Regions from separate parts of the Homo sapiens genome. Here regions 2 and 3 are each linked to region 1. The links come from fine-mapping of genetic effects on gene expression. A gene starts in region 1. Each other region holds a variant in brackets. All regions are shown on one strand. Distances are between the middles of the regions.

Region 1 (10,075 bases):
TGGGTGTACAAACCTGGAGATGTTTCTGTGTGTGTGTGTGTGTGTGTGTGTGTTGTGAGGTCACACACCTGGGATGATGTTGCTCTGTGTGTGTCTGTGTGTGTGTTGTGAGGTCACACACCTGGGGATGATGTTTGTGTATGTGTGTGTTGGGTGTACAAACCTGGGGATGATATTTCTCTGTGTGTGTGTTGTGGGGACACACGGATGATGTTTGTGAGTGTGTGTGTGTATGTGTTATGGGGTCACACACCTGGGATGTTTCTCTGTGTCTGTGTGTTTTGTGGGGTCACACACCTGGGATGATGTTTCTGTGTGTGTGTGTGTGTGTGTGTGTGTTCTGGGGCCACACAACTGGGATGATGTTTCTCTGTGTGTGTGTGTGTCTTGTGGGGTGTACACACTTAGGGATGATATTGCTATGTGTGTGTGTTCTGGGATCACATCCCTGGGGATGATGTTATTCTCTGTGTGTGTGTTGTGGGATAGGACATCTGAGATGATGTTTCTGTATGTGTGTGTCTGTGTGTTGTGGGGTCACACACGTGGGATGATGTTTCTGTGTGTGTGTGTCTGTGTGTGTATGTTGTGCGGTCACGCACCTGGGATGATGTTTCTGCGTGTGTGTGTATGTGTTGTGGGGTCACACACCTCAGATGATGTTTCTTTGTGTGTGTTGTGGGGTCACACACCTGGGATGTTTCTGTGTGTGTGTGTGTTGTGGGGGGTGATGTTTCTGTGTGTGCATGTGTTGGGGGGGATATTATTTGTATGTGTGTGTGTGCGGGGTGATGTTTCTGTGTGTGTGTGTTGTGGGGGGTGATGTTATGTGTGTGTGTTTTGGGGGGGTGATGTTTCTGTGTGTGTGTGTGTTGTGGGGAGGTGTGTGTGTTGGGGTGATGAGTGGATGTGTGGATGGATGGATGGAGGGAGGGATGGATGGATGAAGGGAGGGTGGATGAAGGGAGGGAGGGAGGGATGGATGGATGCATGAATGGGTAGATGGATAGATGAAGAGATGGATGGATGGATGGATAGACAGGTAGATGGATGGGTAGATAGATGGATAGGTGGGTGGATGAATGGATGGATAGACTAATGATGGATGGATGGATGGATGGCGGGAGGGATAGATGAAATGGAGGGATGAGTGGATGGGTAGGTGATTGTATGGGTGGTTGAAAGGATGGACAGACGGAGGGATGGATGATGGAAGAGAAGGAGGGAGGAAGGAAGGAAAGGAAGTGGTGAAGGTGAGAGTGAATGCATGGGAATGAATAGATGGGTGGATGAATGGACAACTGTGTGAAATAGCAGACAGCCTGGGGACACCCTCCCTCCTGTCCCTCCTCTCCCAGGTCTTGCACTGGGCCCTGACACTCAGCCCTGCAGCCTTCAGCGTCTGGGAAGTCCCTTCGAGGAGCAGCACCCCAGACTCTGATGTTCTGGACTTCACTTTGCCATTCCCTTGGGTCCTCACAGCCACTATTTTCTGAAGGCTTCATGTCAAACCCTGCTTGCCTCATGAATACACACAGTTCAGAAAAGCAAAACCTCGACAGAGCCACCACCCACACAAGGGAGGTGACGTGCCCCCATCCTTTCTCAGATGCCCCAGCCACTGAGAGAGGATCCAGGCCACCCTCCCCAGCTGGGGAACCACCCAGTGACAGCACTCCCCTTGTTTCCCACCTGATCCGCTTGGGACGGTGACCAAGGGCAGCCGAGAGGCAGGCCCAAAGGCCACAGTTGGGCACTCAGCACTGGGGTGCAGAGTGGACAGCACCAGGGGCAGGGGGTAGTTGGGGTCAGCAGTGCTGAGGAGGCAGCCACTGCCCACCCCGCCCCCGACCAGCCCTGGCCCCTTGTCAGATCATCTGCACCCCTCGGCTCAGCCTCGAGAACAAGGACCCAGGGCCTGTCCCTCTGAGCTCTACCCAGCCACAGCCCTGCTGTGTTTCTGATGCAGCCTCCCGTCCACGGCCACAGCAACCCCATGCCCCTGCTCCTGGAAACCTGGAGGTCAGGCCATGCCCAATGCGGAGGTCAGGAGGCTCAAAAGGCCTGCAGCCTAAGAGGCCCCTGGCCAGGGATGGCAGATGAAGCCCCTAGCCTCTGTCCTGCCTGCCAGAGCAGCCACCAGACACCCTGTGACCCTTGCTACAAGCCCCTAGGCCAGCCACAGAGAAGACACCCATCATATCTGCAGAACGAGTCAATGAAACTGCAAAATCAGAAGCACTAGGCATGTGGGGAGGCAGCTACCTAGGGCTGGAGCAGCTCAGTTCCCAAGTGCTGTGTCAGCTGCTCCTGTCCTGGGCCTGGCAGTGATTGAGCCCACAGCTGGGCCGAGCGGCCTCAGGCTGGATCCAGCCTGGGGGCTCAGGTCAGCTCAGGGCATGAGGAGAGGCTCAGGACCCTCTTGGTCTCCACCACCCCCAACCATGCGCACTGGGTGCTGGGACCTAGATTGAGGGGCCCCGGCCACCATCTGGGGGCCACCCAGGCAGGGAGCTGCAGCCAAGACACTCAGGAGGCCATCCTCCCTCCCACAGCCTGCTCCCCACTCCCTGGGCTTGGCTCAGCATTTGCCAATTTCAGAACCCCCCCATCCCCCAACAACTGCCCTAGAGCCAAGGCCCCGTGGTCCGTCCTCAGACTCCTCCTGGGTGGAAATGCGTCCCCAACCCAGGCTGGGCCTCCCTTGTGCCCTGCCCCCACCCAGGTCTACAGTCCCCCAGGAGGCCCCTGCCCTGCCTCCTCTCCTTGGACCATCCCGGTCCGGCCAGATGGCAGCAGGGCATGGGTTACCTGGTGCAGGCCCTCGAGGCCGCTGGTGCCTGCTCTGTGCAGTCCCTGCTACGCCTCAGGCCCAGCGCCCGAGGGGGAGGTCGCCGATACCCAAAATAAAACCTGCCCTATCCCTCTGACCTCAGCTGGCTGGGCGGAGAGCGCCTGCCAAAGCTCCAGGAGCTGGGCGGGCAGCACCTTCCCCTGCTGGCCACACGGGGCCAGTGCAGGGTTATGGCACACCCACCTTCAGGTGCGCCCCTCAGGACCCCTGGCCTGGGTGAGGGCTTGGGTGGGCACAGGCTTCCTAGGCCTGCAGACTGAACCACGTGTAACCAGAATGGTGGGCTCAGGGCTCCGTTAGAGAAGCCGGCAGAGCGAGCCTGGAAAAGGAGGTTGGCCCCACCATGGGAGAGGATGGGGTGGGCCCGCTGACCCCCAGGGACCCGCTCACGTGCCTCTGAGGGAGCAGTTCTGCAGATGTCCCCAGTGGGCAGGAAGCTGGTCACAGATATCCAGGGGCCAGGGCTGTTTGTGGCCCCCAAAGCCTTGCCCATCGAGGACATGGACAGGGAGGGGAAGGCGTGGAATGCAGACGAAGCCACAGACCCAGAGCAGGAGGACGGCGACGTTCCCAGCAACCCCAGCTCCAAGAGCCTTCCCAGTGCCGGGCACTCAGCGGGAGGCAGGCAGGGGACCGGCCCTGTCCTTTGAAATGGCAGCCTGGGGCCAGCCCGCCTTGTCGTGTGACCCCAGGCACACCTTGCCTGTCCCTGGGCTCTGCGGCCTCGCTCTTCCATGGAGGGGTGGAATGAGGTGCCAACCACAGCCTTCCGGAAGGCCCCCGACCCGGCCCCAGGGCACTGTGAGCCCCTGCCGGGTTATCCTGTTGTCCCTGACTCTAAGCCTGGGGAGGACAGGGACCTCATCTGTGCCTCTCGGGACTCACCCCTGTCCTGGGCGCTGGCCAAGAAGGAACCAATCTGTGCCTGAACCGAAGAGTTCCGCAGACACCACCGCCCACGCTCAGCCTGTGGGGTCTGAGGGGAGTGAGGGGGTGGGTCAGGGTGCCAGACTGCTCTCCCCCACCTGGTGCCTCAGTTTCCCTGATCCAAGAGGCAGGGTTATCCAATCTGGTGGCCTCACTGGCCAGCATACAGGCCATCAGAGGCCAGGAAGGATGTCTGCTAGTCGGACGGTGCCACCTGGAGTCCTGAGGAAAGAAAACCAGTCTCCACACGCCACAATGAGCCTGTGGGAGATGCTGGCACAGATGGTAACGGCCACTGCGAGTGCCCAGGGTGGGGCCCCAGGGTTAGAAAGGGCCTAGAGGGAGGACCCAGACCCTTACCCAGCAAACTCCATGTGTAGCCCCCTGCAATGGCAGCAGCCCCGGGGGGAGGTATGGCAGACTCGGACTGCAGCCAGCCTGGCCATGTCCCTCGCCCGCTTATTGTGTAGGCCCCAACGGTGTCTAGCCAGGAAAGCAGAGCTGGCCTCTAAGAGGGTCTCAGATAGGGTGGGGGCCTGGCCTCAGTTCCATGGGGGGTCTCCGAGGCCTCAGGCTGCTTCCTCCCCGGGGGAGACAGCGAAGGGCCTGGGGCATTGGGCCGGGCGGCGGGAGGGGACCCCGGCTGTGCGGACCCTTTTCCTGGACAAATGTTTACTCCCACAGAACATCTCAGAGAGAAGGGGCGGGGGGGTGGGAAACCCGGCAGCCTGGCTCTGGGGACCCCCACACTAGTTTGGCCCAAAGAGAGCCTCGGCTTGGTGCCCCGGGGCCACCCAACACCTTCCTCCTCCCTCCTCAGCCCATCCAGAATGTACCCGCTGCTGGGAGTAAAAATAGCAGCTGACACCTCCTGGAGGCGGAGGGAGGACCTTGCCTCCTTCTCCAAGCACGTCCTCTGCATCCTGGCCTCCTTCAGCCTCCTCCTCTGGCCATTCCTATACTTGGTAAGGGGCCTGCACGGGCATAGCCCCCCCCAGCAAGACTCCGCACACACCCCGGCCACCCAGTCACTGGCCAATGGGCTCCTAGGAAGATCAAATGTCACTATAACACGAGGGTGTGAGCCGGGCGCCAGTGCCTGCAGCCGGTGCTGTCCACAGGGAGCTCCAGCCCTTCTCACACTCGACCCGCAGGTGGGTATAGGCAGGAGCGGCCACCCAGGACTGGGGCCGACGGGGCCTCCTGCGTGCGGGTGGACAGCCCCTCGTTCCAGGGACACTCTGGGGTCCTGGGGCGCTGAGGTCCCAGGTCCGTGTGGTGCCGAGCATCTCGAAGCATCATGGCTCGGAGCCCCCAGGTGGCTGCTCCAGCGTCCGGAGAGTCTGGGATGCGGACATGGTGGTGTGATGGTCTCAGCACCGGGAGGATGCAGAAGAAGGCAGAGTGTGGGAGGCCAGGAGGGGGCAAGTCGGGGCTCAGGGAAGCTCAGTGCTAGGGAGTGGCCTGAGGGCAGGAGGCAGAGAGGTGCGGGCTGTGAGCGGCAGGGAAGAGGCTGTGCAGGGGTGCTGCCAGGGCTTAGGTTGCCAGCTTGTGGTCGCCATGCAGACATTTGCCCAGGCCCGTCCTGGCCTTGCCATGCAGCTCTCGCACCTGGGCCTCCAACACCGCCATTTTGTAGAGATGAAAACGAGGACAGGAGGGCAGGGGCTCCTGTATGGCCAGCCCGAGTGTGTTGGGGTGGGGGCGTCTAAAGCCCACGCAGCCTTGGGGGCCAGCGTCTGGAGGTGCAGGACAGAAGTGGACAGGGGCTGGACTGGGGCAGGACGGGGCAAGAGTGAGGGGCTGGGCTTCATCGCGTCCCCCTGGCTGGAGGCTGGAGAAGCTGGCGCTCGTAAGAGCCCCCACCCACCCTCCCTGCCCTGGACACGGTCCCCCTGACTTGTGCCGTCTGATCAGGCCTTGGCTGCCCCTCCTGAAGTCCACGGAGGGACATGGGGCAAAGCAAAGGTTGGCTGGGTGGAGAACAGGTCTGGGGGCATGGTCAGGGCCACAGCAAGCAAGGGGCAGCGGCTTTTGCCTCCCCACCCTGCCCTGGCCCCGTCACCTCCCAAGGAGGGAAAGGTGATGCATACGTGCCCGAAGAAACTGACCGCATAGGTTATTTTCACGCAGCCCCTCCAAGGCAGGCACTAACTGGACACCTGCTTTGCGTCTCAGCTGTTGAAATGCCATCCCCTGCCCCCAGCACACCCCTGCCCCCAGCACACCCCTGCCACCAGCCCCTCCCCGCAACAGAGGCAATGACACAGGCCATACTGGGGGGAACAGAACAGCCTTGTGTTGCTTCCAGGCGCTCAGCAGAAAACCAGGTGCCTCAGTTTCCCCACTTGGAGAGTGGGCCTTTCCAGCGCACGTCGGGGGGCCTGGAGGTCACCCTGCCTGAGGGTGTTGGGGCACCCATGTGACTCTGGCCTGGGGGGACAGGAGGGAAATATGAGGAGCTGGGGAGGGCCTGGGTGCCCGAGGGTGAGGGGGCAGCTGTGGGCCAAGGAGGGCTGGGCTGTCACACCCGCCTCACCCACGTCTTGGGTTTCTGGGCAGAAACGTCTTGCCTATTTCTGGACACCTCAGCTGCCACTGGCTCCTTATAAATAACCCACCCCAGGCGAGGGCCACGCTGCCCCCATCTTGTGGCAGCCGACAGGTGTCTGCCCCGCCAGCGTCGGGCTGGGCACAGCAGGGCGGGGCCAGGCTCCGCTCCCTCCCTTCACTGACCCTCCTCCTCCTTACAGAGGATGGCCCTAGAGGAGTCTGTGGCGTTTGGGGCCTGAACCAGCTGGGAGGACAGCACGAGGGGCTGGTGGGCAGCCTGGGACTGGGTCACACCGGGGGCCTGGACAACACTGGCTCGTGGGGCTGAGGACTGAGGAGAGCCTGGCCCAGCCGTGGCAGTTACAAGAGGCTTAACCTGAGGGGCAGCAGAGTCTCAGGAAGAGATTCTGGGATAGGAAAAAGCTACCCCCGTTGCCTGGAAGACAGCTATCTGCTGGGTAATTTTGCATGGAGCTTAAGTTGCTCTGGGAAAATTAACATTCTTGACAGAGGGTTTGGAAAACGGTTCCCACCTCAGCAGTGCAACGTAGATGCATTTTTAGCTGATGAACGTGTGTTTTCCTTATACAACACTCCCAGGGGGGACCGTAGCTATTGTCTTCGAGTAATCTGTACTGTGTTGTAATGAACTTTGTTTTCTAAAACCCTGGCCAACATGCCGGTGCAGCTGCTCAGAGCCTCCCCAGGCCTGGCCGCCCAGTGTGCACGGTGGCCAGCTCACAGAGAGACGGTCCCCAGCATGCTGGCCTGGCGCCACCACCGCACATGGACAGGGCAGCCAGTCCTGGGCATGGAGCTTCCCCTAGACAGGGACAGATCCAGAGCATCCCCGGGACCAGGGAAAGCGGCCACAGGGAGGGAAATGGGGGGGCTGTTCTGTGGGCTCCTGCAGTCCAAGTATGCCTTGTACAGAGCCCGGCCCGGGGGGGTGCACGGGAAGCGGCCCAGACCCAACCCAACGTGCTCTGGGGCTCAGCCTCAATGTTTTCAGGGTACAGGGGTAACAAGAAGGAACAGCTTCCCTGCTCTGTGATCTTGGAGGAGGGGTCCTCAGAGGGGTGTGGTGGGACACACTCTGGGCACCCCATAGGAAAACAGGCACAGAAGGGAGCTTTGGGCTCAAATAGGGAAGAGGGGTTCTCATGGGGAATGGTAGGGTGAGCAGATTACTCATCTTGGGGAGCCAGTCTCGGTCATCCAGGGGCTCCCAGGGAGACCCCACCTACACCCACTGGGCAGAGAACACCCAGAGACAGGTTTCAGCTCCATCAGCGGGACCTTTCCAGTGTCTAGAGCGGGCTGGACGGCACACGGCCTGCATTCTGGATGACCCTCCTCAGGGGACGCCACGGAGAGGATGTCTGCCCTGGGTGGGGGTGGACGCCACGACCTTCCAACATCCCTTCCAGCTCCAAGATTCCAAGCTCCAGTCTGGAGCCAGGGCAGGAAGAGGGGACAGAGTCTGGGGCGCCAAGAGCTGGGAGGGGCCAGGAGCCCTGGAGAAAGGGGAGGCCCAAGGAGGTGGACTCACCCAAGGCCAGAGCTGGCCCCCAAACCCTGCCCGCGGTCCCCCACAGCGCTGCTCCAAGACCCCATCCCCCATCCTACACCCAGGCAGCTCGTAACTCTCTTTCCATCCTCTCTCTCTCTCTCTCTCTGAATCTCTCTCTGCAGAAACCACCCACCTTCACCATGTCTGACGAGGAAGTGTGAGTACCCAGCTGGTGGCTGCCCCCTGCCTGGCTCGGGACCCTGGCCCCTTGGCTTCTGTGGGGCTGGAGCATGCGCTATCTTGCACAAGTCCAAGCAAAGCCCAGCCTCACTACCTCTCTCTCTTTCTTTCTCTCTCTCTCCCTGCCCCACAGTGAACAGGTGGAGGGTAAGTGTAACAGCCATTTTCTTTCTACTTCCTGCTCTAGAAGGAAGGCTCACATGTGGGCAGGGGGCTGGACTGTGCATACCCTGTGTCCCCTTGACAGCCCTACATCAGCTGCATCCCATGGGTGGCTTCTGAGTGACCCCCGGAAAACAGCTGTCCAAGTGGGGGGCCTCGTCTTTTCCCCGAAGTGTGGCCACATGGTCCTGAGGGGCCTGCAGGTCAGGCTCTGGGTCCTGTCTCTCTGCTTCTCTCATGCCCACTGTGGGACGTGGGCATCCAGGACCCCCGAGCCCCCCAAAAGCCACCATCATCACCAGAGCCTCTGCCTTCCCCAGCGCCTCCTCAGGGCCCGAGGACCCCTGATTCCACGCTCTTGGGCAGGGGCAGTCGCTGGCCTGTCCAGGGCCGGGACACACTGGCCTCTCATCCTCCTCCTCCCTTCACGGGCTGCCCCTTCTAACGTGGTTCCCCTCTTTGTTCTGTCCCAATGCAGAGCAGTACGAAGAAGAAGGTAATTCTGGCAACCACCGGAAGCCCCCCCAGCCCCTCCTTGGAACTTAACCCCCCTCTCCCGTGTGGCGCTCACAGAACCCCCTCCCCAGGCTGCTCCAGGCCGCCTTGAGCTTGTCAATCAACCTTCCATCTTCCTCATCATTAGTCACTAACAATCACCATTCATCATTAATTAATGATAAATGAGGCCACCACTTAATTAATGATGGATGAGTCATTAAATCATCACTAACCCCTGTCTCTTTAATCGATTAATATGCATTCACGATCCTTCATTAATCCTTCATCCTCCGTGTGCCATGGTGTGTGGAGTTCACTGGGGCTGGTCATGAAGGCCTCAAAACACCGAGTGCCCTGCGTGCCCAGTGCTGCTGTCTCTCTGCCTCTCTCTCTATCTCTACCCTCCCGGCATCTCAGAGTCTCTCCATCTCTCTCCAGTTCCTTTCCGTGTCTCTCTTGGCAACTTTGTCTCTCTGTGTGCCTGTGTATCTCTCAGCTTCTCTCTGTCTCTGTATCTTTCAGCCTCTTGGTCTCTGTCTCTCCCTGCCTCTCTCTCTCAGTCTCTGTCTTTCTTGGCCTCTCTGTCCCCATTTCTCCACCTCCATCTCCATCTCTGTCTCTCTGTGTCTCCATCCCTCCATGCCACCCCCCAACCCTGTGCTGTAACCCTGGGTGGAGCCTGGAGCCCCCTCCCTGTGCTGGCCAGGTGTGGTCTGTGGGCGTCTCCATCGTGCCCGGGCAGGCGTGGGCGGGTGTGGGCGCACCTGGGAACCGTGTGGGGTGGCGGTTCTCAGGCCGACGGCGCTGCCCTGGAATCCCTGGCACCCACTCAACTGGGGAGCGCGTTCACGCAACCTTAGCAGGCAGGGCTGTCCTGTGAGGAGTCCTGAGTGCTATGTTTTGAAAATATTTTGAAAACACTTGGCTACCCTAACAACGTGAGCAAAACATTTATTTTTCTGCCGAAAAGGTGGAAAGACTCATTTCTGCGAGGGAAATATGGCACTGGGGAGCCATCTTTTCTCTTGGGGCAGCCACGTGGCAGGCCGGGAGGCCACGGAAGGGTCTTCGTGCGACATGTCTCTGAAGACCCCTCAGTGCCAGCCTTGTTTCCGGGTGCACTCAGAGCCGGGGCTTCCCGCAGGCCCTGTGGGTTCTGTCCCCGTTCTCACTTGTGTCACCTGCAGAGCAGGACTTAACAAGGGCCCCCGTGCACAGGCGCCTCCAGGCATGGGAATACCAGGCCCCCAGGAGGGTGGGAGGGGCCTCAGAACCCCTCTCAGGGGCCGGGCCCAGCCCAGCTGACAGTGACCAGCTCTGCTGGTGGG
Region 2 (10,075 bases), 39 kb before region 1:
TCGAGCCCCTCCCTGGACTGCCCCCTCCCTGGGGCAGGACCCCTGCGTGTGGCACAACCAAGGGGCCTGCTGATGGGGGCTCATGTGAGCAGTGCCCCAGCTGTGGGTGTGGGTGCTGCCAGCTGCCACCGCCTTTGCCCTGGCTTCCCAGATAGGCCCCGACACACACTCCGAAGCTGTATCATGAACGCTGTGGTGGGCGGCTGGCGGGGAGCGGGGTTGCTGTCCCACTACCCTCTGGAAGCCTCAGCCACGGAGGGCCCCTGTGGGCACCTTTTCCCGGCACACGGTGCTGTGTCTCTCCACTCTTGGGCTCTGCAGTGACTTGAGGGGTCAAGTCTAGGACCCCAGGGGAGGCTGGGCTCATGAGGGGACCAGAGACCTCAGTGCTGTGCAGGGAGCCCCGAACCACCCTGGTGGAAGGCCCAGCCCAGCTCCCCAGGCCTCCTGCCAGCTCCCTGTGGTGTCCAAGGGACCTGTGGTCAGGCCTGGAGGAGAAGCTCCCCCTCCCCTCGACATCCTCCCCGCAGCCCTTGCTCTTCACCAGAGCCTCCTCACTCCCCAGGACCCCAGAGAGGACGGACCCTCTCCAGCCGCCCTCTGGGCTCAGGACAGCCGGGTGGGGCAGCCACAGGAGCTGCCTGCAGGGGGCAGAGTCGGGACGGGGACCGAGCCGGACACCCATTCTGCAAGTGTCTGCAGGGGGAGGACGGAGGTGGGTAGCTGGGAGTGCTGGGCCGAGGATGGGCATTGTCAGGCCCTCAGCGGGGACTGGGAGGTAGAAGTGGGGGTGGGGGTTTGTGGAGGAAGGAGAAGAAGGGCCAGCGTCCCGAGTCGGGGGGTGCTTGGCAGTGGATGAGGCCGGCAGGAACAGACCTGAGCTTGGGGAGCTCCACTCCGAACGAGGCATCCGTCAGAGTTCTGTGCATACTGGTGTCCCTGGCTGGGGGCCAGGCCCCGAAGTGGAGCCTGGGACTGTGAGGGTGCGGGGGTGTGCTGGGGTGGGAGGTGGATGGAGCCCCCCCACCGCCTGGCCCCTTGGGCTGAACCTTGGGCTTCGGAGCCAGAACAGACACAGGAAATCGCCTAATTGCATTTGTGCAGGAACACCAAATCCCTCGCAGCTGCACGGGGCTGAGCCAGGGCCACGGGCGGGGTCGGCCATCCCAGAGTCCTGACAGCTCCGTGGTGCATGCCAAGGGGCCTGGGCCGCTGGCCGGGGGGCGCCTTTCCCAGGCCAGAGGCCCCCACCCCACCCCAGGAGAGCTGCCCCCCTTTCAGTTCCCAGAACGGAGCCCAGCTGTGGAATAGTGAGGGGGTGAGGTCATGGGGAGGGGGCCCGCATGACTCATATCCTGGGGTAGGGGAAAGGGAGGAGACGTAGAAGGGGCCCAGAGGCCTCCACGTCCTCAGGCTGCTGGGTCAGAGGCCAGGGGCTGGCCGGGCTTCTCCCCAGCACTGGGTTTTAGGGGAGACACCAGGAGATGCTTACTCTGCATCCCCTACTCTGTCCCCCAGGCCCCTAGCCAGGGAGAGCTCAGTCGGAGTGATCCTCCAGGGGCCCAGCTCTGCAGGGACGATGTTCCCAGAGTACACACCTGGGCCTCGTGCCAGGGCCGGCACCGCCGTTGTCGGGGCAATGGCAAGGCAAACAGTCAACGTTTGCCTCACTAAAGTGAGGCTGCGGCACCCTGAAGGGATCCCTGGAGGGGGACGTGGTCCCCTTGTTCCCAAGCCTGTCTGCACACGCACGTGGATGTCAAAGGTTCCCGTGTGTGAGCACGTGCATACTTGTATGTGCATGGGGTGCGGGCATGTATGCCTGTGTGGCTGGAGCGTGGGCTCGTGGAGAACGTGTGTGAGTTGGGTGTGCACCTGCGTGTGCCCCAGGCCTAGGGAGTCCTGCGCCCGGCCGCACTCCATGTGTTGGGCATGAGCTGTGAGCAGAGTGAGGGCCTTTGTGGGGCTGTTGGGGCCCGGACTGCTTGCCCATAGGGGTGGACCTGAGGAAACGTGTGCACACGAGCTTCTGGGGTCTCTGCGCCAATGTGTACTTCCAAGCCCCGCCTCCCCTATGGCTTGGTGGAGGGGGTCTGTGGAGCTGGAGTGAGGGCCCTGGACCCATCGGAAGCCCAGGTCCAAGGAGGAGCATGGGCTCCCTCTCATGCCCCAGGCCCAGGGACACACACCCCAGCTAAGCCCTTGCTCACATGGAGGGGCTGGGACATGGGAACACGGGGAGCAATATGGCCAGGCTTCCCCTCCATGGAACCCCTCCACCTCCTCAACACTCTGCCCCAGCCTGCGCCGCCCTCTGTGTGGAGGGGCTGGGGCGTGAGTGAGCACGAGGGCCCCTGCGCCCCAGGCTCTGCCTCCTCAGGTGGAACAAGGCCCAGCAGCCCCCAGCCATGCGGAGGCCGGCAGAAGCGGGAAGCTGGGCCTCATCTGCCCGGATGATGGGAGCCAGGTGTGGGGAATTAAGTGGCTTCCTCGGGGGCCGGGAGTTGAAGGCACTTCTGAGGAGCAGGACAGGCAGGCGGATTCGGGGGCGCGGGGGGCGGGGTGCACAGGCGGCTGGGTTTGCGTGGCTGGAGTCCCCTGTGGCTTCGGTGGGGGGAGTGGGCCTTGAACTCGGGCCTGTGGAAGGGCCTGGCTTTTGTCTGAGAGGCTTAGGGGAGACCTAGGAGAGATTAGATCACGCGCTGGCAGGGCTGTCTGGCCAGGGGACTGGGGCCCAGTGGGGATCAGGCTGCAGGGTCAGGCAGCGGCCACTGGCCGGGAAGAACTGAGACCCCAGTGGGGAGACCCCAGCCCTGCTCCCTGTTCTGGCCTGGGCTCCCTCCCTGGGTCTGGGATAATAAGCCCTGTAGGAGTGTAGAGACCCTGGACCCCCTCTCAGGCTCTAGGAGGGCGATGGGAGGCAGGGCCATGACAGCTGAGGCTGCGGTGTCTGCAGGACCTGGACCATCTGAGAGCTGCTGGGCCGGGGCTCTGATGCCCAGGTCCAGGCCAGCCTGTGCCTACCTCTGTCCCTGAGGGGGGCGCGTGGGACCCCAAGAAGCCATGGTTTCAGGCTCTGAGGGCAGAAGCACTCCCTTACCTCAGTTTCCCCATTTTTGAAATGGCTCAATCGGCTGGGTGCGGTGGCTCATCCCTGTAATCCCACCACCTTGGGAGGCTGAGGCGGGCGGATCACCTGAGGTCGGGAGTTCAGGACCAGCCTGACCAACATGGAGAAACCCTGTCTCTACTAAAAAATACAAAATTAGCCGGGTATGGTGGTGCATGCCTGTAATCCCAGCTACTCAGGAGGCTGAGGCAGGAGAATCGCTTGAACCCAGGAGGCGGAGGTTGTGGTGAGCCCAGATCACACCATTGCACTCCAGCCTGGGCAACAAGAGTGAAACTCCGTCTCAAACAAACAAACAAAAGAAACAGCTCAGAGAGACTCCGCAGAGGGCTCTGAAATAAGGATGGGGTGGGGTTGGGTGAGCCGACCCTGTAAGGTGCCCCCAGCTATGGGGTTAGGCCCAGGCAGGACCCATGAGTCTGCGGAGCTTCTGTGAGCGGGGCTGGTGGTGGGACAGGAGGTGTCCTGCCTGGACGTGCTCAGGCCCTCCTTTCCTCAGCCTTCGACCTCCCCTTTCTCCAACACGCCCTGCCTTTGGGGTGCAGGAGGGAGCACCCGCAGGTGGGGTGGAGGTGCCGCCTGGCGGTGGGCTGCGGCCAGTCTCCCTGGACTCCAGTATCTTCTTCCTGGGCCCTCCAGGGTCACCTGGGTCTAGGTCCTGGTTCTACTTAGGGAGGGAGGCAGGCTGGGAGAGGGGGACAGAGGGCCTTTTGTCCTGTCCTTGAGTTTCTTCAGGCTTGAATGGGCCTTGGAGTCCCACCTTCATCCCCACAGGGCACAGGGGTGCCCAGATCCTCACAGGGCCCCAGGACCCTCGCCTGGGCCAGAGGGCACCTCATGACCACGTGGGCAGCCTCTATTTAAAGATGGACAAGGTGAGGCCTGAGGGCCGGCCTGGGACTGACCTCGTGGACAGGGCTGCCTGCACCGTGTGGCCCCAGCAAGGCCTGTGTAGATGGGAGGAATGGGTGCAAAACAGCACCTGTGTCGGCTGTGGCGTGACTGTCCCTCTGTGTCCCCCACTAGGCCCACTGCTCAGTGGAGCGTGGAGGACGAGGAGGAGGCCGTCCACGAGCAATGCCAGCATGAGAGAGACAGGCAGCTTCAGGCCCAGGACGAGGAGGGAGGCGGCCATGTCCCCGAGCGGCCGAAGCAGGAGATGCTGTGAGCAGCCCC[A/C]TAACGCGTGCCTGGGCTCTAGCCCCTATCCGTGTACCCTGGGGCCTGGGCAGAGGGGGAGGTCAAGGGCCTGGGCTTGGGGGTTCCAGTGCAGGATGAGAGCGAGGAAGGGCCCCCAGGAGCAGGCGTGGGAGTGGGTGAGTGCTCCTGGGGCGAGGGTGGCCACAGCCCTAGAGGAGGGTCTGCCAATACCTGGCTGCCTCCTGGGCGCTGACCCAGGCTCTGTGTCCGTGCCCTGGCCCTTGCTCGGACCGCCTCTGACCCCAGCCACGCAGCCTGGCCGAGCCCCCCACCAGACTCCCCCGCCAGTGACTCACAGAGCCACGTCCAACTTGGCGGCCAGGCTGGCTTGCTTCCTCCTTGGGCCCAGGAGGCCTCCGCGGCTGGGCTGGGCTGTTTTTCCAATAATGCTTCCCTTCCTTCTGGCCTCTTTTGTTCCATTTTCTCCAAGTCAGCAGCCTTGGGCAGAGTGGGGTTCAGCGGTCACCATAGTCAGGCCCTTGGCCACCCCCACCAAGGGCCCCAGCTATCCAGGGGCTCCCCCTGCCACATGGGAGGCCTGAGAAGTCGGGGCTTAGGAGGACCTCATGTAGGGTCCTCATGTGGGGACCAGGGCAGCCCTTGGGGAGCCCCAGGATGATGGGGGAGGCACAGCCCTGCCCTAGGGAGCCCCAGACTGATGGGGGAAGCACAGCCCTGCTGTTAGGGAGCCACAGGCTGACGGGGGAGGCCCAGCCCTGCCCTAGCGAGTCCCAGAGTGATGGGGGAGGCACAGCCCTGCTCTTAGGGAGCCACAGGCTGACAGGGGAGGCACAGCCCTGTCCTCAGGGAGCCCTACACTGATCGAAGAGGCACAGCCTTACCCTCAGGGAGCCCCAAACTGATGAGGGAGGCATAGCCCTGCCCTCAGGTAGCCCCAGGCTGATGGAGGAGGCATAGCCCTGCTGAGCCTCAAGGAGTCCTGGACTGATGGAGGAAGCACAGTTCTCAGGCTGCCCCAGAACTGACGGGGGAGGCATAGCCCTGCCCTCAGGTATTCTGACCACAGGAGACACAGCCCAGAGCCAGCTCTGTGGCAGACAGGGTCTCCCACACTTGGAGTCCAGGGCCTGAGCGGGCGCCGTGAGGTGAGTGTGGGCCCTGGGCAGAGGAGGCAGCAGCCGCCCAGGCCTAAGCTCCCCCCTGCTACCCTCAGCCTCAGCCTGAAGCCCTCGGAGGCCCCTGAACTGGATGAGGACGAGGGCTTTGGCGACTGGTCCCAGAGGCCAGAGCAGCGGCAGCAGCACGAGGGGGCGCAGGGCGCCTTGGACAGCGGAGAGCCCCCCCAGTGCAGGAGTCCTGAGGGGGAGCAAGAGGACAGGTGAGTGAGGGCCTCGAGGGCGGGCGCTGGGCAGAGCAGGGCTCCCTCTGGACCTCGAGGGCGGGCGCTGGGCAGAGCAGGGCTCCCTCTGGACCTCGAGGGCGGGCGCTGGGCAGAGCAGGGCACCGCGGAGCTCCCTTCAGGCCCTCAACCTGCGCCTGAGCAGCCACCCCATCCTCCCCTTTCCAAGCAGAGCCTGAAATGCCCCCATGGCCAGGAAAGGGGGAGACAGGAGGGGAGGGAGGAAGAGGGCGAGACAGCATGGTGGCCGGCGAGGGGCCGCGAGGAAACCTCATTCTGGGGCTCCCCAGGGCCCCTGGGCCCCATCCAGGCAGCTGCGAGGCCAGGCCGGGTGCTGCCACATCAGCACACAGCTGCGGCCGCTTCCGTAATGGAGGCTGAGAGCCCGCCGCCGCCCCTTCCTCCCTCGGGGCTGGCTGATCTCCATTCCCACGGAGGGGAGCAGGTATTTCCAGATGTGCATGCCGGAGAGTCGGCCGGGAGGACGCACTTTCCAGATGTGGGGATGTGTGTGCCTGTCTCAACCCCAACAGGCCCAACAGGGGCTGCTCCCGAGCCCCACTTCACTACCCCTGCTCGGGGTCCTTGCCGCTCTCAGTCATCTGTGGCCATGATGGGGCTGACCCCACCCGCCCTGCAGGGCCTGGGCCATCTGGGACCCCAGCCCTGCTCAGGACCCCCTTGCCTTGAGTGGGACCAGAGCCCATGGCTGGGCTGACAGTTCTCCCTGGTCAGGGTCCTTCCTGGCCCCTCTGAGGCCCTAAACCAGCCTGGAGCTCTAGGGACCAGTGTTGCTGAGCGACGCTCCCTTGTCCTCCTACAACCAGGCTCCCACTCCCCAAGAACCACTGGTCCTGGCCTGGCGCAGTGCCCACCGCCCCCCTCCCTGGGCCTCAGTCTCCCCCCTACGTGCTTGGGAGTCAGCGGCTCTGCTTTTCTGAGATGGGGCAGCTCCCTTCTCCCTTGGCCTCAGGCCTAGGCGGGCGAGGCTGCTCCCACCAGCAGGGGGCGCTTTGACTCTTCCGTGGAGCCCAGCTCTGCGGCCGCCACCCCACCCCCTGCACCTGCCTGGCTGCACAGACCTGCTCCTGAATGGCCCCTCTGTGTGGCTGCTGCTGGCTCAGACCCCTGCCCACCTTGGGCGGGTGGGTCTGGGTCTTGGCTGGCACGCACACCCAGGGGCCTGAAATCATGGAAAATTCGAGAATTTCCCATCTTCTCCTCCAGGTTCAGTCCTGCTCAAATGCAGAGCCGCTCAAAGCTGCCAGCTGGCTGGCCTCCCCTCCCCCGCAGCCGGCAGCCCCTTGGCCCTGCTCCTCAGTGACCTGGCCCCTACCCCTGCCTAGCCCTCCAAATGACCCAGCCTCCAGTCCCCCAAACACCCAAGGGCCCCCACAGGGAGCAGAGCAGGAGTGGTGGCCCCAGCAGCCCGGCCTCGCGGGGACCCCGTCAGACCAACCGGGTGTGCAAGCAGCTGCCAAGCTGAGGCCCAGCCACAAAGCTGGGGATTGAACCCAGCCTCAGTGCCTGGGGGACCCTCAGTCTGTAGAGCCCTGTCTGGCAGGGACTGGGCAGTTCCCCAGGGGCCTCAGGCCCTGACACAGGGGCCCAAGCAGACTGCGCTGGCTCTGAGGCCACTGGACCTTCTTTCCCAATGGGCTTGGGTCTCAGATCCCTTGGCACTCAAGTAGCCTGACTACCTTCATTTTACAGATGGGGAAACTGAGGCTTGGAAAAAGGAAGGGGTCAACCAAGCAATCCAATGGCCCTAGAACGGCTTTGCCTCCCTTTCCACCCACAGGCCCGGCCTGCATGCCTACGAAAAGGAGGACAGTGATGAAGTCCACCTGGAGGAGTTGAGTCTGAGCAAGGAGGGGCCAGGCCCAGAGGACACTGTCCAGGACAACCTGGGGGCCGCAGGGGCTGAGGAGGAACAGGAGGAGGTGATGGCTCCACCTCAGAGGGTCTGGGTGTACCCCCACCCCAGGGATGAGTCTGCCTTGGCTGTCTGCACCACTCTGTGGGCCCTGTGGGTCTAGCCCAGAGTGGGTCAGCACCCCACACCCCTAGACCTTGCAGCCCCTTCTGGGCCCACATTCTCAGAGAGGGCAAGGCTCAGTGATCCTCTTGCAAGATCCGGAGACATCTCTCCAGACTCCTCAGTCCCTCCCCACCAGCTCCAGAACTGGAGCACGTCAGGGCCACAGAGAACCTGGGGCTCAGGAAGGAACAGCATTTGTTCCCACAGGTGCTGGGCAGGGCAGGAGGGGCACAAGCAGGGGGTCACTTGGGATGTCTGTTTTTTTTTTTCTAGCACCAGAAATGTCAGCAGCCCAGGACACCCAGCCCCTTGGTCTTGGAGGGGACCATCGAACAGAGCTCGCCTCCCCTGAGCCCTACCACCAAAGTAAGTTAAGCTGCAAAGCCTGCCATCTTCTCCCCTCTCCCGTACTCATACCCAAAAGGCCAATCCCACATGCCAGCCACAGGAAGACCAGGCCCAGGCCTGGCTTTTGTCTGCTATCCCCCCATTGCCCGGTGCTCAGCGAACCCCCATGATATAAGGGTTGGGGGTTGGATTAGTGGTTGGAGTAGCTGGGGAGATGGAGGGTGGGCTTTACCTCGGCTGCTGCAGGCCTGTGTCTCTCTCCACCCTCTGCAGCTCATCGACAGGACCGAGTCCCTAAACCGCTCCATAGAGAAGAGGTCTGTCTGTCTGTCTGTCTGCTTTCTGGGCTCAGATCTTAGGTTTAACCAAGTGGGGGTTGAAGGGAGTCACAAGGTAGAGATCTGGAGACCGAGGGGGGCTCTGGGAGAGGCTTGGGCAGGTTGGGAGAAGCCTTGTGGGAGACATGGGGCCTGACACATCTTCTACCCTCCAGTAACAGTGTGAAGAAATCCCAGCCAGACTTGCCCATCTCCAAGATTGATCAGTGGCTGGAACAATACACCCAGGCCATCGAGGTATGACCTGGCTCCCCTCTGCTGTCAGGTCCCTCCTGCATCCTGGCACCATTCCTTCATCCAACCAACGCCCTTCCATCCAATCAGTGCCGCCTTATTCAACCAACACCCTATCCAACCAATGCTTCTCCATCCAGTCAGTGCCCCTCTACCCAATCAATGCCCCTCCATCTAATCAATGTCACTCCATGTAATCAATGCCCCCCCTTTCAATCAATGCTACTCCATCCAACCAATAATCTCCCATCCTATCAATGCTTCTGCATCCAATTAATGTTCCTTTATACAACCAATACTCCTGCAACCAATACTCCTCCAATTATTCAGTGTTCCTCCATTCAATCAATGCCCCCCTCGGAACAGTACTCCACCACCCAATCAATGCTCTTTCATCCTATCAATGCTCCTCTATCCAGCCAATATTCCTCCAGTCAATCAATCCCCCTTTATCCAACCAGTACTCCTTAATCCAATCAGTGCCCCTCCATCCAATCAAGATTCATCCCTCCATCCAATACTACTCCATCCAATCAGTGCCTCTGCATCCAATGTCCCTCCATCCAATCAATGTCCCTCCCATCCAATCAATTCTCCTCCATCCATCAATGCTTCTCCATCTGACCAATACCCTCCATCCAACCAATACTCATCTATCCAATGAATGGCTCACCATGTAACCAATGCCAGTCCCACATGCCAGCCCCTCCATTCAATCGGTACCTCTCCATCCAATCATCCAATACTCTTCCATCCAGTCAATGTCCCTGCATCCAACCAATAGTCCTTCATCCACCAACTCCCTTCAATCCAACCAATACACCTTCATCCAATCAATACCCCTATTCATTCAGTGCTCCTCCATTCAATCAATTCCCCTCCAGCCAACCAAAACAACTTCATCCAGTCAATGCCCCTCCATCCAATAATGCCTTGCACCCAATCAATGGCCTTCTATCCCATCAATTTCCCTCCATCCAACCAAAATAGTTTCACCCAATCAATGCCTCTGCTTCCAATCAATGCCCTTCTATTCAACCAATACTTCTTTATCTAATCAGGACATCTCCATCTAACCAGTATCCTTCCATCCAACCAACACTCTACTAAATCAGTGCCCCTCCATCCACCCAGTGCCCCTCCATCCACCCAGTACTCACTTATCCAACAAGCACTCCTCTATCTTACCAGTATTCCTCCATCCAATCAGTGCTCTTCTATGCAATTAATGCCCCTCCATCCATACTTTACTCCTTCACCCAATCAGCGCCCTTCTAGTCAAGCAATACTTCTGATTTCAATTAATCCCCCTTCAACCAACCAATACTCCTCCATCCAACCAGTACTCCTCCATGCAATCAATGTTCCTCTATCCAACCAACATCCTTCTATCCAACCAATATTCCTCCATCCAATTAATGCCTCTC
Region 3 (7,862 bases), 52 kb before region 1:
GTGGAGAACCAGGAGCGGGGGAGAGGGGAGGAGGGGAGAGGAAGGGAGGGGAGGGGAAGGGAGGGAGGAGGGAAGGAGGGAGGGAGACAGAGATAGGGACAGAGACACCAGAGGGAAAGGAGAGAGGAGAGAGGGGCTGAGTGCGAGACGGGGAAGGAGGGGACGGGACAAAGAGGAACCAGCGAAGGGTCCAGGCCTGCGATGATGGTGAGGGAGGTGGCAGGTTGACGAGGGGCTGGACAAGAACGGCCGACGAAGGAGAAGAACAGAGGAGGGCCCGGGCAGGGCCTGGCAGAGGGCATGAGGCACTCCGAGGTGGGAGGCGGCGATGGGCAGAATAGGCCCCTGTGCCTGGGGCAGGGGCACCACAGAGGGCTAGGGGAGACCGAGAAGCGGGCAGCGGCTACCAAGGTGGCCTGAGGGCAGAGGCGGAGGGAGGAAGGGAAAGAGGAAGGGAGGGAGGGAGGGAAGGAGGCAGCCACGCTGCCCATCAGCGCGCCACAGAGGTCTGGCTGAGCCCCACGCTGCTGGGCTGGGAGAGTTTTCGCTCTGACATTTTTACTCTTCTCGGAAGGAGGAGGAGGTGGAGGTGGAAGAGATGGAGGCGGGAGGAGAAGGGGGCTGGGGGAAACAAAAGAGAAGCAGCTGCTGAGAGTCCTGAAGTAGGAGAGGGGAAAGGGAGACCCACAGTCAGGGAGACCCACAGGGATGGGGACACAGGGACCAGGCTGCCTGCAGGGAGCCGGCCTGCAGACCCTCGTGCCAGGAGCCGAAGGGAGGGACCAGGCTGCCCACAGACCCCTGTGCCAGGTGCCAGAGGGAGGGACCAGGCTGCCCAAGGGAGCCGGCCCACAGACTCCTGTGCCAGGGGCCAGAGGGGCCAAGACAGGCAGGCAGAGGGTCACAGGGACAAGGAGAACACCAGACAGAGAGAAGGGACAGGGGAGGGGTGACAGCCAGCGAGAGACCGAGGGCCAGGGCAGAGCGCCAAGGAAGTGCAGGAGTGAGAGGGGCCAGGAGAGGCAGGAAAGCCAAGGAGAGCTGGGCACAGGGGGGCAGGGGTGCGGGAGGAGGGCAGCAGAGAGGAGGGCCAGCAGGACAGGAGCCTTTGAGATGCTGCTCTATCCCCGGGGCTGGGGTCAGGCCAGGTCGCCGCCTGAGCAGAGGCTGCAGCCTGGGCAGTCCCGGGCTTCTGAGGAGGAACTCTAGCAGACAGGGCCTGGATACCTCTTGAGGTAGGTCCCTCCTGCCCTGGCTGGGCATGGAGGGCAGGGCAGGGTGCCCATGCTGGGCTGCCACATGCACCGGGCCACTGGGCCTCCCCCCAGCTTCGGTAGGCTCTGCTGCCCCAAGCGTGGGCAGCGAGAGGGTGCCAGGCTGGTTGCGTGTACATGTGTGAGTGCGGAGGCTGCTTGAGGCCTCTCTTCCTCCTGGCTCCTGGCAGCTGCCCATGCATTCTCCTTCCCCATCCCACCTGCACTGCCGGCTGCGCTGTCGCCTGCTCACACCGTCCCACCCGCACCGCCGGCTGCACTGTCACCCGCTCACACCGTCCCACCTGCACCGCCGGCTGCACTGTCACCCATTCACACCATCCCACCTGCACCACCGACTGCACTGTCACCCGCTCACGCCGTCCCACCTGCACCGCCGGCTGCACTGTCACCTGCTCACACCTCTCCCCGAGCCCCAGGGATTCTGCTTGACTCTGAGCCCCCAAAATGAAGGGCCCATCCTCTGGGTGGCTTCTGGGGCCTCCCGTGGGGTCCTTCGGATCCTGGGCACCCTTCAGTCACCCTCACTTCACAGATCATGAAACTGAACTTTGGGCTGAGCTTACCGGCCCTGGCTGCAGCCACCAACCCTGAGTGGGAGGCTCCTCAGGGCCAGGGAAGGTGCCCGGGCCTTGTCCACCTGCAGGTGTTGGGCCAGTGTGGTGCCCTCTCCCAGCCTGTTTCTTCCTCTGTAAAGTAGTGGTGTGGCCCTTCATGGGGTCAGGTGGGAGAGCAGAGTTTGGAGGGCCCAAGGCTCCTCAAGACCCAGCCTGGGCAGTCTCAGAGATATCCCTCTGCACCGTCAGCCACTCTGAGCCGCCTGTAGTGCCCTTTCTCCTCCTCAACCCTTCCAGGCTTTTAAGCCAAACTGAAACACCACCTCCTGCTTGAAGGCTGCCTTGCTTCTTCCTAACCTGGAGGGCTGTCCTGCTCTGACTTCCTTTGATGGCATGGAGCATGCTGGCCGGACCTCGAGCTACTGGAAGGCAGGGCTGGCATCGGTCGGCTTGCCACTGCCCACCCAGGCCAGGCACTCAGTGCTGAGACTCTGAGAGGCCAGAGAGCCAGGGATGCCCATGGGGGTGAGCTAAGTGGGGTCTGAGGAGTTGAGGGCAGCCCGGCTCACCCCTCCTCCCCAGCTCCCACTTGTTGGGTCCGTGCAGATGCAGAGAGATGGCTCCGATCTGGTCCCCACCTGGCAGGGTCTCCGGCTGTCACCTGAGTTCAGGACCAGCACCAGGATCTGCAGTGGGCCCCTGGCTGGGCACACCTCATCCCAGCCTCCCCCTACCCCTGGCCCCCCATAAGCCTCCTCCTCCTGGGCTTCCAGGCTCTGCTGGTCAGACCTCCCTCCCTGCCCAACGGGAATGTGTTTTCCCAGGGGACGCTGCTGTCCACCAGGAGCTCTGTGGCCTGGGATTTGAGGAGTGCCTGGGGTCAATCCCCCAGGCTCACCAGTGCTACTTAACAAATGGGCCCAAGAGAAGGAAGTGCAGCCCCCGGAGGAGGGGCAGAGCCCCTGCCTGGCTGTGCGGTGGCTCACCCCCTTGTCACCAGGGGCTCGGCCATGAGCATCCGTCCAGCGGGCCCAGCACCAACTGCAGCCCCAGGTGAGCAAGCCGCACTCAGGAGGCACTGAAACCGTGTGGGCCCAGGCTCGGGGCCAGTCCCTGTGGACCTGGGGAGGAGACACTGAAGCCGCGTGGGCCCAGGCTCAGGGCCAGTCCCTGTGGACCTGGGGAGGAGGCACTGAAGCCGCGTGGGCTCAGGCTCGGGGCCAGTCCCTGTGGACCTGGGGAGGAGACAGTGAGGAGGGGACCTCACTTGCGGTGGTCAGCCAGTGGGTTGGTGGCATAAGGACCCGTCCCTTTGAACTCCCTTGGAACTTGTCCTGATGGGGGCTGGGCAGAGGGCAGCAAGAGTCCCTTGTCCAGCTAAGGGGAGCCACCAAGGTGAGCTACATGAAGCAAGGCTGACACGTGTGCACTAATACACACCCCCTCCAGGACACAGACCCAGAGGCCGCTGCACCCCACCCACCCACCACACCCACACACACACATGCACACACACACGACCACCCGGGACAGTACTGCGCTCACCACCACTGCCATGATCTCTTCTCTGCAGCCTCCAACAGCTCGGACTTCCCCAGTCCCAGCCCTGCAGGCCAGGCAGACTGCCCCCTACCCACTCCCTGTTGGATAAAGGAGTGAGCCAGGCTCAGAGAAGCTGTGGGTGAAGAGACTTCAAGGCCACTCAGCCGGGCATGATGAGCCCGGGTCCCTGGGTCCCTCCTCCACCCGCATCACCCCACCCCTTTCCCGGGGACCCCTTGGGTGTCCTGCCATGTCAGGTGCAGGGCTGGGAGAGGCATTGCAGGCAAAGTGCTGTGTCCTCAGTGATGAACCCTGAAGGGCCATGCTAGGTGCCCGCAGCTGCCAGGGAATAAATTCAATGCAGTTTACATCCATTAAAAATGGTGCTCTGGGCCAGTGGGAAAACGTGTCCCCCCTGCCCCGTCGCCCCCCACCCCTGCCCCAGCGATTCTCCTTGTCTACACCCAGTGCAAGCCCAGGGGCTCTGCATGTAGTCCCATAACACCATTTTCTCCAGGTCTGGCTGTACCCAGCCCCTGCCAGAATGCGGCTTCTGGCTGGCAGGGTCAGGCCCTGGGCTGACCTACCCCCAATGCCTCCCTGCCAAGTCTGCCCTTCCAGGCACCTGGGAGTCTGCCCTGTGCCTCCTGCCTGCCCCTGGGCAACTCGGGGCTCTCCCAGGGCCAGCTCGGGCAAGGCAAGTGTTAGGGATGGTCAGGGGACCTCAAGAGGACTTCAGCCCACTCAACTCCAGACGTCACCCGGACTCAGCCAGCGGCCTGGCCCTGCTACCTGTGGGGTCCTGGCTTTGTGAGAGGGCACCAGGCCGGCTGAGAGTGCCTTGTAGCCTGGCCCGGAGTGAAGAGGGGGGCTGGGGATCAGCCTGGCAGACGTTCTTATCAAGCATTGAGGTCCCCGGAGCCCCGTGCCCACCCTTAGCCATGGCTCTTTGGGCGGTGTGAGCCCCTCCATTCCCTCCATCTCGGGCACACATCTGCCCACACATATACAGATGTGGCAGCCACACCGTGCTTGGCTCTCCGCAGGGCTCTAAGGCCCCTCAGGCAGGGACCCACCCTGAGCAGCCTGGTCCAGGGACCTCTGGGGCTCCTGATGTGGCCAGTGGGGCAGGAATGGGCTGGCAGCCTGCTGGGCTGGCCCTGAGGGGGCTGGGGGAAGCCAGGCCTCCAACCACAGTGTCCAAAAGGGTGTGGCTGCCTTGGGCCCATCCAGGCCTGAGATCCTGAGGGTGGGGTAGCCCCCGCCCTGGCAGGGCTGGAAGTCGGTCTTCGGACAGAGCCCGTCCTGCCCAGAAGCCCAGGCGAGCCAGCAGCAGGGGTGCAGGGACCGAGTGGCCCAGCCCCCTGGGCAGGGTGTCAGGGCCAGAGCCCAGAGGACGGCGGTTCAGGCTTCAGTCCCAGCCGGCGAACCAGAGCTGGGCAGAGCGGCCAGCAAGCGGCAGCCAGGGTGCCCTGGGCACTCGACCCCCAGATGCCCCTGCTGGAACCGTAAAGGGGAGGCACCCTGAGGCCAGAGGGAGCATGGCCCCGGGGACTGAGCATCCGGCTCAGAGCGGCTTGGCAGAGGTCGGTGGACTGGGGTTAACCACAGAGGTCTCTGGAGGGCAGACAGGAGCCACTGCAAGTGGGAGCTTGTGGGAGAGAAGCCCTTGGGTGACCCCTGGATGGGGCGGGGACCATTAGGGAGAAGGGTGAGGGGCTTGGCCCCTGCCCCAGGCTCCAAGTGGGCTGAGACCCGGGAGGCTTGAGGGTCGGCTGCTACCCATGACGGGTTGGGGAGGTATTGGTGCGAGCTGAGGTGGTGCTTGCGGAGGTGAGATTGAGGGCCGGGCCTGGCCAGGGATGCTGGGAGGGGGGCAACCCTGTGCCTGGGGCTGTGAGGGTCTCTTGACGAGAACAAACCCTACCTGGGGAGAAGTGACAGAGAAAAGAAAGAAAGAAAGCGAAGGCACGAGAAAGAAATGAGAGAAAGGGAGGGAAAAATGCTGAGAGGGAGGGAGAGCAGGGGCTGCCTTGAAGGAGGAGGGAGGGGGAGCAGAAGCGGGTGCAGGGTGGTGGCAGGATGGGAAGGGCAGAGGGAGGGGCTGAGGTGCGAATGGAAGCTGTGTGAGGGTCCCGGGCACTGCCCCTTGCCGCCGACCCCAGGTGTGGGAGGAGGGGTCTCTCCCACGTGGGCCGCACCTAGCAGGTGCCGGGGCAGAAGGCTCAGAGCCGCTGTCTCACACAGCTTCTTGGTGCTCCAAAGACGGGCGGTAGGAGGAAGATCAAAGAAGCGAGAAATGGATGCTGGAGGAACGCAGTGAGGCCAGGCGAGGGCTGGCGAGCTTGCCAAGGAGAGG[G/A]CGGGCGAGGAAAATGGGGCGCCCCACAGAGGAGGGGGCGTGGGGGGGGCTGGTTTTCCCCGAGACTGAGAAATGAATTTCTGCACCCGGACTGGGACCCCCTGGGTCAGGACCCTCCACTCACATTCAGGAGCAGCACCTCTTCTGGCCTCTGTCCCTGCCTGGTCTTCCCCACACCCGGTTCTTGGGGGTTGAGGGGTTGGAGCCCCAGCCACGTCATCAGCTCCCTGGGACCCCTGCGTGAGACGTGAGAGGTGCACCTCCGAGCCTCCGTTTGTGCATCTGTAATGGGGATGATAGGACTGCGCCCCTGGCGACCATTGTGAGGACGGAGGCGCTGGCTGCACTGGTGCTCACTGTGCCTCTTTAAACGGGGATGTCTGGACCTCTGGTGCAGAGGACCAAGGCCGGTCCACTTGACCTCAGCCATGAGGACATCCCAAGGCCATGTGAGTCTCCCACGGCCCACTGAAGCTGGTCCTTCATACCCCATTTTGCAAACAGGAAAGCTGAGGCTCAGGGAGGCACCAAAGCTTACTCCCATCCTGGGGCTTGGCAGGGGGTGCCCGCAGCACCCGGGGACATACACCGGGGAGTCTCCTGGGAAAGAAGTGCCGGCCCAGGGGCAGACTCTTTTCTGCTCTGCCATGTCTTCCCTGCACCCCCAGGGATGATGAGTCTGGGAGGGGCTGGTCAGCCATGAAAGCTTCGGGGAGGGGCCGGTGGCCAGGCCGGGCACCCCAGAGCTCCACAGGCAGACATGGTGTGGGGGTGTCAGGAAGAGGGCCTGGCTGCTGGGTGCTACGGTAGGAAGATCCCGGTGCTGTGGGAGTGGAGCAGGTGGTTGAATGCCAGGCTGGCTTGGTCCTTCTCTCTGGGTGCCGGCTGTGGCTCCCGCCCAGGTGGGCACCACGTCTGAATAATGTATGAAGCCTCTGGTTGCGTGGAGGATGGGAGCGCTTCGGGCAGCATCTGTGGGCAGAGACTTCAGGGATGTGAGGTACATCTGGGCATGGCTAGCTGGGAAGGAAAGAGGATGGCAGAGCCTCGAGCCGTTGCCAGGGACTGGTTGCGTGTCCCAGAACGTGCCAAAAGCCTGCCTCGTGAGCACGGCAAGAGCTCTGCCAGGGCAGTCCCAGCTGGCCCAGGCGCCGCAGCGCTCCCGAGGGCCGTCGAGCAAAGGCGGGAGGCGCAGCCGGGCTGTCGGTGGACCTGTAGGTATCAGGGCTCCTTGGTCCCCTCCTGCGGGAAGCAGGCACCGAGTGGGGCTGCATGTAGACGCATGCGAGGGTGAGAGCTGCGGCGGAGGACGCTGATCGCGGAGTGCAGGCGAGGGCCCCAGAAAGGTCCCGCAGGTCGCCTCGCTCGTGGCACGGGCTCGGCAGCGTTGTGGTTAGTGACACGGAGGAAGACAGAAAGCCATATGCACAGCACGCAGAACAGGAGGAGGGGGGAAGAAAGAGCAGGCACGGGGCAGGCAGAGCCGCAGCCACGCCGCCGGGATGCAGCAGGCAGGGCCACCCACGAGCAGGGCGGGGCCCTAACCTCCGACCCAGGCTGGTCGCCGCAGATGGGGGCAGAGATGTGAAACAGCTGCAGAGCGGGACAAGGGTGCTGCCGGCACAGGGCTGACCACAGAGCACATCAAAAGAGGTAGGGCACCCAGCGCAAGGGAGGTGATGGGCTGGTCAGCAGGACATCAAGCCGGTTCTGGACCCTGCTCTGAGGACGGTCCCTGACCCAGCCTCTGAGGACCAATGGGAAGCCAGGGGTAGAGGGGTTGGGGGAAACCAGGCTCCATTTTCCAGTCTCAGCAGGGGGCCAAGGCTTGCGGCTCTGCGGAGGCCACACCATGAGGTTTCCAGGGTCATAGATGCCCTTTGGTCAGCGCTGTCTGCCGCTGCACGGGCACCCCTCCTGTTGGGTGTCTGGGTAGACTTGGGGGTCTGTCCGGCTGGCGTGGGCACCTTTGGGAGGGGGGTGTGTGTGGCGGGCAGGCCTGGGCTGTAGTCACCCCAGCCCGTGCTGGTAGAGTTGGGGTCTGTCCGGCTGGCGTGGGCACTTTTGGGACGGGGTGTGTGTGGCAGGCAGGCCTGGGCTGTAGTCACCCTGGCGCACGCTGGTAGAGTT

What was found. PIP is the estimated chance that this variant, and not a neighbour inherited with it, causes the effect.
Region 2: its variant is the best candidate, but not a certain one, in a credible set for the expression of TNNT3 in CD4 T cells (Kasela 2017, PIP 0.64).
Region 3: its variant is the best candidate, but not a certain one, in a credible set for the expression of TNNT3 in ileum (GTEx, PIP 0.54).

The regions. Positions count from the first base shown.
Region 1 is chr11:1,914,828-1,924,902 of GRCh38, forward strand. TNNT3 (troponin T3, fast skeletal type) reads left to right here and starts at 4,876. Exons shown (of 16, transcript NM_006757.4): 1 at 4,876-4,935; 2 at 8,030-8,064; 3 at 8,221-8,234; 4 at 8,728-8,745. The coding sequence starts at 8,048. It also overlaps a transcript of PRR33 not described here. RefSeq lists a silencer at 1,594-1,643 and an enhancer at 2,194-2,243.
Region 2 is chr11:1,875,931-1,886,005 of GRCh38, forward strand. LSP1 (lymphocyte specific protein 1) reads left to right here. Exons shown (of 11, transcript NM_002339.3): 2 at 4,157-4,294; 3 at 5,502-5,666; 4 at 7,489-7,630; 5 at 8,002-8,094; 6 at 8,350-8,393; 7 at 8,570-8,651. It overlaps MIR7847 (microRNA 7847), which reads left to right and starts at 4,115; the gene lies at 4,115-4,217. RefSeq lists enhancers at 1-513, 514-1,410, 6,090-6,299. The variant A/C (reference allele first, on the strand shown) is at 4,307.
Region 3 is chr11:1,864,028-1,871,889 of GRCh38, forward strand. The region is part of intron 1 of LSP1 (lymphocyte specific protein 1); the gene reads left to right. Among named protein-coding and RNA genes, the nearest start is that of MIR4298, 8.4 kb to the left of the region's middle. RefSeq lists enhancers at 6,574-7,112, 7,113-7,650. The variant G/A (reference allele first, on the strand shown) is at 5,733.